Homo sapiens: one gene and its partner. The protein of the gene in region 1 purifies or fractionates together with the protein of each later gene. This does not show direct contact. Each region holds a gene or a part of one and is shown on either strand. Other genes may lie near its edges.

Region 1 (3,851 bases):
AAGCAATTCTTCTGCCTCAGCCTTCCGAGTAGCTGGTACTACAGGCACGTGCCACCACGCCCGGCTAATTTTTGTATTTTTAGTAGAGACGGGGTTTCAACATGTTGGCCAGGATAGTCTGGATCTCTTGACCTCATGATACACCCACCTTGGTCTCCCAAAGTGTTGGGATTACAGGCGTGAGCCACCGCGGCTGGCCCCCCACTCCCCACCCCCTTTTTTTTTAAGACAAAGTCTTGGTCTGTTGCCTAGGCTGGAGTGCAGTGGCATAATCAGAGCTCTCTGCAGTCTTAACCTCCCAGGCTCAAGCAGTTCTCCCACTTCAGCCTCCAAAGTAGCTAGGACCACAAGTGCGTGCCATCATGTCCAGCTAATTTTTCATTTTTTGTAAAGATGGGTCTCACTCTGTTGCCCAGGCTGTTCCCAAACTCCTGGGGTCAAGTGATCCTCCTGCCTCGGCCTCCCGAAGTGTTGGGATTACAGGCATGAGCCACTGCACCCAGCCTTCAATTTTTCAAACAACAAACTTTAATGCAAACTCATAGCACCATACATTTTGGGCATACTGTACTGTTAGAGGAAGTGGATAATAATAGTTATATTTAATATACTTTGTTGATTCATTAACATTTGAACTCATGGATGGCCAATAACGTGCCTGAAAAAAGCTTATTCAACACATATTTTCTCTGAGAGGCACATTGCATCCTTGTGCTTAGGGACACTGCACAACCCGTCAGCATTATGCTTGTGGGCCATTTTAAACATTGCTGTAGCCAAGAAAAAGCACAGAAATGGAAAAAATGTGGCACTAAATAGCTGTAGGAAGAACACCAGTTTACAATGAGAAAGTTAAAACAAGGCAGAGTGTCTCCTTCAGCCTCAGCTAGGAGTGTGCATGTAGGGAGACTCCAACCCTTCACTGCTCTAAGCATGTCTGTGAATGACTGCAAAAGTGCCATGAGTATTGATTTGGGGTTACGAATACATTTTACTGAGTTAGTGAATTCTCAAATACAGAATCCACAAATAACAGTGATTGACTGACTGAATCTCCTTGTAAACTGGCAACAGTCTGCATACCCAACCTGTGTGATCTGACCACTGCTTGCCTCTCAGGCTCACATCTTGTCATTCCCTAGACGACTAGGGTCATAGCATTCTGAACTAGTTTCTGGAATACAGTCTGCTCTCTGTCTTTCTAGTCGTGCTTATGGTACTCTATTGGCATACTCTTTTTATTCTTTACTTTCTCTTAACCAGCTTTTCTCTATCCTTTAGGTTTCAACTTAAATGTCTCCTCCACTTTGTCTTTTACAAATTTTCCTATCTCTGCAATATAGATAAATAATAAAGGATCATATATTTTACTTATTATTTTAAAACTTTTTTTTCTTATTTTTTTTTTTTTGAGACAGGGTCTTGGTATGTTGCCCATGCTGGTGTGCAGTGTGGCATGATCATAGCTCACTGTAACCTCCAATTCCCATGCTCAAGCAATCCTCCTGCCTCAGCCTTTTAATAATTGGGACCATAGGTGCACACCACCATGCCTGGTTAAAGAGTCCTTTATTTAATACAGTTAGTAATATAGGTCTGTTGGTTAAAGATGGGACAATTCTTCTTTGGCTTAACTCAGAATTTGCTATTTAATATAAGAAATTGCTGTTTTCCGCTCATGAAATTAAGTATTTCTGTAAAGGTGACCCATGGAGGTGGATTTTCTAGTCAGGTAGTTGTATACATGTGGTCTTGGTTAAACTATTAAGTTATCAAAAACTTTTATATGATAGTACTGAGAAACTATAAAGGCAGAGTCTTCAGACCTATGAGGAATCAGTGTGTAAATTACAGATATATTTAAAGAGTACTGACTTGTTTTATCAGGAAACTGAATCAGGCACTTATCTTTGAATTTTAACTGGATTATAAAAATTGATAGGGATGTGCCCTATATCGACATTTGAAAAACTTCCTTTAGTAAGACGCTACTTGAGTTTCATAGAAAACCCAGATATAACCCATATGTTGTTTGAATTTTATTTTTCTGGCTTTAATTTCTTTTCACATATTGTATAAGAAAAGTAGAAGAGTGTGCTTTCATGAGAACAAAACTCAAAACTCAAGTATTGTTTGTTAGACTGCAGAAGTTTCCTAAGTTCCATGGGGACAGAGACCTTGTTACTGTGAGGACAGCTATATCTCAGTTTGACATAGAGCCTGATTCATGGTGTAGTACTTGATATCCATTTATTCACTGAATAAATTGGAAATTTCTCTTAACATGATTTTTTTAATACTCTTTTCTCATATACTAGATTATCATGGAGGTGAAATTAGCAGTTATATATATCAACTTGAATAATAGCAAAATGACTAAGATTGAATTTTTGGTGAATTGCAGTACTGTCAGTACGATTTGAAATTTGATCATAATAAAATTGAAGGGGATCACGAATTAGAGATATACAGCCGGTGAATGTGGAAAAAACACCACTCAGTGTGCTTTTCTCTATTTTCTCACTCAGCCACTCAACAGCAACAATCATCACAGAAGACTTCTGTGATTAAATGTGTATGGATTCATTCTCACACCCTAAGCAAGTAATCAATTCTGCAGTGGATACCACCTGTTTGCTCTCCAATTCATTTCAACATTATCTACCTGGAGGTAGTGTCAGACCCCACAGACTGAGGGCTCAGCTTCATAAGACTGCCCAAACCCTTCAGATACCAGTCCTAAATCCAGACCTCTGGAACTTCTGACCAACTGACTTAAAATTGGGGTTCCCATAATCTTCCCTTTGGGTTCGATTAATTTTCTAGAGCAACTCACAGAACTCAGGGAGACACTTAAGTTTATGGGTTTATTATAAAGCATATTACAGAGGATACAGATGAACAGATGCATAGGGTGAAGTATAGGGTGAAGGTGTGTGGAGCTTCCATGCCCTCCCTGGGTGTGCCGTCCTGCAGGAACCTCCAGGAGTTCGGCTATCCAGAAGCTCTCTGAACCCTGTTTTTTTTTTAATGTTTTATGGAGACTTCATTACATAAGCATGGTTGATTAAATCATCGAGGTGACTCATTTAACTTTCAGCTTCCCTCCCTTCCCAGAGGTTGGGGAATGGAGCTGAAAGTCCCAAACTTCTATTCCTGTCTTGGTGCATCTGGTGACCAGCCCTGATCCTGAAGCTGCCTTGGGGCTACCAGCCCTCAATCATTAGCATACAAGAAGATACTCCTTTGGAGATTCCAAGGATTTTAGGAGTTGACCAAATAGATATTTCACAGTATCACAGAAGGTAAAGTGCTACAGTCTGCATTTTAAGTAATATATAAATGACAAGTGTTATAGAGGGGAAGGTGATGGCCCTACCTGAGTTATCCCTGAACTACTCAAATTTATTGACTTGATACCTTGTTGGAAGTTTAGATACAATATATACTCGGTTCTTAAGCTTGTAGTCTTAAAACAATAAAAACCCCAAAACAGAAAAACAGTCTTCCTAGTCAGTAAATCACCTCAGGTGAAAAAATAACAGTGGTTGATGATATCAAGTATGATAAAGGGTAAGATGATAGCCCCTACCTCTGAGTTATCCTTGAGCTACTCAGATTTATGGAAGTTAAGATGCAACTCTAACTAGGTTCTTAAGATTGTAGTCTTGGGACAGGGTGCGGGGGAAGCGTCTGTTGTCTGTAAATCAACCCAGGTTAAAAAAAAGAAGCCTTGATTGTTACTCGGGGCTGTGATCTGATTGACTCCTCCCTCATAGAATGTGCCCATATGACTATAAAACAATAAGGAATATCATTTCAGGTTTTCCAGGCAGCTAAAAAGCCTGAAT
Region 2 (3,010 bases), on another chromosome or scaffold:
TCAACCAAGACGCCCGCAGCCACTACAGAGGGGCCAGGACGCAGCAGCCTGCGGGCACTCTCAGAACCTCGTGCACACAACTTATGGGAACTTACAAAATCATAAAAAAGGCCCCACATTCTTAAAGGTATAATTTATAGCGCATTCTGTACAAAAGCAGTCTTTTACAAGGGACTCTGCTGCTCCTCAGAAGAAATCCATAGCCCTGGGCCTTCTCCTTGGTGTGGTGGTCAGGGGCTTCTTGGCCACCAGGGGTGAGCTGGCAGGTGAGCTGGTGGGGGTCTTCAGCACCCCGTGGAGGGGCTTCTGTTCAGGGTCGAAGGCCACTCGAGAAGGGCCCGTGGGACTGACCAAGATACTCTTGTCTGTCTTCTTGAATTCTGTCCCAAATGAGAGCAAGGCCCCATATTAAGTGGGTCCGACAGCTGTCCCTTCAACACCTTAGACAGCGTCCTGCCTGGGTGCCGACCCCACCCACTTGCTAGGACGAAGCAGGGCCATCTCAAGGCCCTGCAGAGAGCAGGCCCAAGAGCCTTCTGAGGAAAGGAGGGCAGTGAGGCCACATCCCATGCCTCAACTCACCCTCCCAAGGGAGGGCCCAGGGCTGCCTGCACAGACTAAGGGGAGCTGCTGGTAGGGTGGCTCCTGGAAGGGTGAACATTGGGGGTGGGGGTGTTTTGGACAATGAGTGAACCAGGCATTTGTGTCTGGGACAAATCTGTGCTATGTGGAGCTGCAGGATTCGTACTGTTCATTTTCTCCAGTTGTAAAGGCTGGGTGAGCTCCTCAGTCTCTCAGAGTCTCTTCTCCCTAAACATACACACTCACGCATGTGTGCATGCACACGCACACACACATATATACTGGTGCATGTACACACACTCACACATACACATACTCTCTATTACTTGCAGTTCCCAACAAGAGTCAGGTCCTAAATTCGTTATAATACTTTTTTTTTTTTTTTGAGATGGAGTCTCACCCAGCCTGTCACCCAGGCTGGAGTGCAGTGAAACGATCTTGGCTCACTGCAACCTCCATCTCCTGGGTTCAAGCAATTCTCCTGCCTCAGCCTCTCGAGCAGCTGAGACTACAGGTGCTTGCCACTACGCCCAGGTAATTTTTGTATTTTTAGTAGAGACGGGGTTTTACCATGTTGGCCAGGCTGGTCTCGAACTCCTGACCTCATGATCTGCCCACCTTGGCCTCCCAAAGTGTTGGGATTACAGGCATGAGCCACCGCGCCTGGCCTATACTACTTTTTAAAACTTTGGTTTCCTTTGTAAAAGCAACTCGAATGGATGGCACCAATATGAAAAGTAGGAAGATAGGGGTTACCCTTCTCTGTCGCCCAAGAAGCAAGTGGTTCCGAAGTTTCGCAGAGAGACAGCTACAGCTGATGGAGCACTACGATCTCAAATGGCCTCTCTATGGGACGGCTTTCAGTATTTAGAAAGACACTTGGGAAAACGGCTTTTTGGATCACGTCTCACCAGGTAGCTTCTCTTAACAGGTCCCAGGCAATTGGCTGCCCACTCACCACTGGCACCCCACTCACAGCCCTTTGAGGATGAGGGACAGACACATAGGTGCTTCCTTCTGACTCAGAAATGGGCAGTGAGGGGCCGGGCTCGGTGGCTCACGCTTGTAATCCCAGATCTTTGGGAGGCCGAGGCAGGCAGATCACCTGAGGTCAGGAGTTTGAGACCAGCCTGGCTGACATGGTGAAACTCCATCTTTACTAAAAATACAAAAATTAGCTGGATGTGATGGCGTGCACCTGTGATCCCAGCTACCCGCTACCCGGCAGCCTGAGGCAGGAGAATCGCTTGAACCTGGGGGGGCGGAGGTTGCAGTGAGCCAAGATCTCGCCACTGCACTGCAGCCTGGGTGACAGAGCAGCGAGACTCTGTCTCAAAAAAAAAAAAAAAATAAAAATAAAGAAATGGGCAGTGAGGAGCTAGGACCCCCCTCTTCCCCGACCGCCTTGTGGAACCAGGCTGCGAGCCGCGCCAGGAGCTGCAGCTGTGCTCCAGAGAAGCTTGCCGCTGGCAAAACCCCACTTACCGGCAGTCATGTTTCTGTTCAGCCCAAAGGTGACTTTCTTGGAGCTGGATGGTGTCTTGTTTAGCTGCAGAAGAGAAATAACAGGAACAAAAGGAGTGACGCAAGTGCAGTGGAGGCGCTTAGTCAGATTTTTCTGGAGAACCTGCCCTGGAGGGTATGCCGCCCACACTGCTGCTTACTGAGTGGCACATATAGGGAGAGGCCAAAGGGACTGCGGCCAAGACTGAAACCGACCCTCCTGTCGGGGCTTCACCAGGACCGCCCTTTGTCCTTCCCAGCGTCCCACACACGCAACCCCCCAGCCCAGGGTCAGTGGTGCCCACACTCTTGGCCCATCTGCGGTCACTGCCTCATTACCGCTGCAGGGTTCTACGATCCAGGGAAGAAAGGCAAACAGAGAGGATGCCTGAACTGTCCTAAAAACAGTTCACCACTGAGAACCCGTGAGGAAAAATGCCAAGACTCCCCTGCCTTTTGCTGGAGAGTTCTGAACTTCTAACTTGAAGACTCTATGACATCGATGAGACGATGCCTATGATGGAATCTCACTGCAATGGACAATGGACACACAGTTTCCAGCTTTTTGTGCACAAGGACTCTGAGCTATCTGCATATCCCAACAGTTCACCACAATCAACTATCTTCTTTCCTACTTACATTCCTGGAAGTGGATCCAGCCTGCATCAGGAAGCACTGCCTCAAGTTCCTGCTCTGACCCACATTTCTGTGTGGACCTCCTACTGCTGACTTGCACCACTTGTGTTTAACACTGTGACATTTCACGAGAGAAAACTGGTTTCTGCAAACCCTGAGCCGGAAGCCCTGGGAGGCAGAATGTGTGGATCAACCGCCCCTCAAAGTCCCCTTCCTGACTGTGATCCCTCAGGGTGGGTCCCAGACCACTCAGACCTTATGCTACCCTGGCCGTGGAACCTGTCCACTG

What was found. Proteins that work in one complex are often made in the same cells at the same time.
Region 2: the proteins of RRP15 (region 1) and RRP1B purify together in Homo sapiens (co-immunoprecipitation; one large-scale study listed by IntAct). This does not show direct contact.

Annotation. Positions count from the first base shown.
Region 1 is NC_000001.11:218,291,631-218,295,481, forward strand, and holds part of RRP15 (RRP15-like protein), read left to right. Parts: intron 1-3,851.
Region 2 is NC_000021.9:43,690,560-43,693,569, reverse strand, and holds part of RRP1B (ribosomal RNA processing protein 1 homolog B), read right to left. Parts: intron 2,132-3,010; coding exon 2,068-2,131; intron 381-2,067; coding exon 187-380; 3' UTR 1-186. UniProt on the Homo sapiens protein: Positively regulates DNA damage-induced apoptosis by acting as a transcriptional coactivator of proapoptotic target genes of the transcriptional activator E2F1.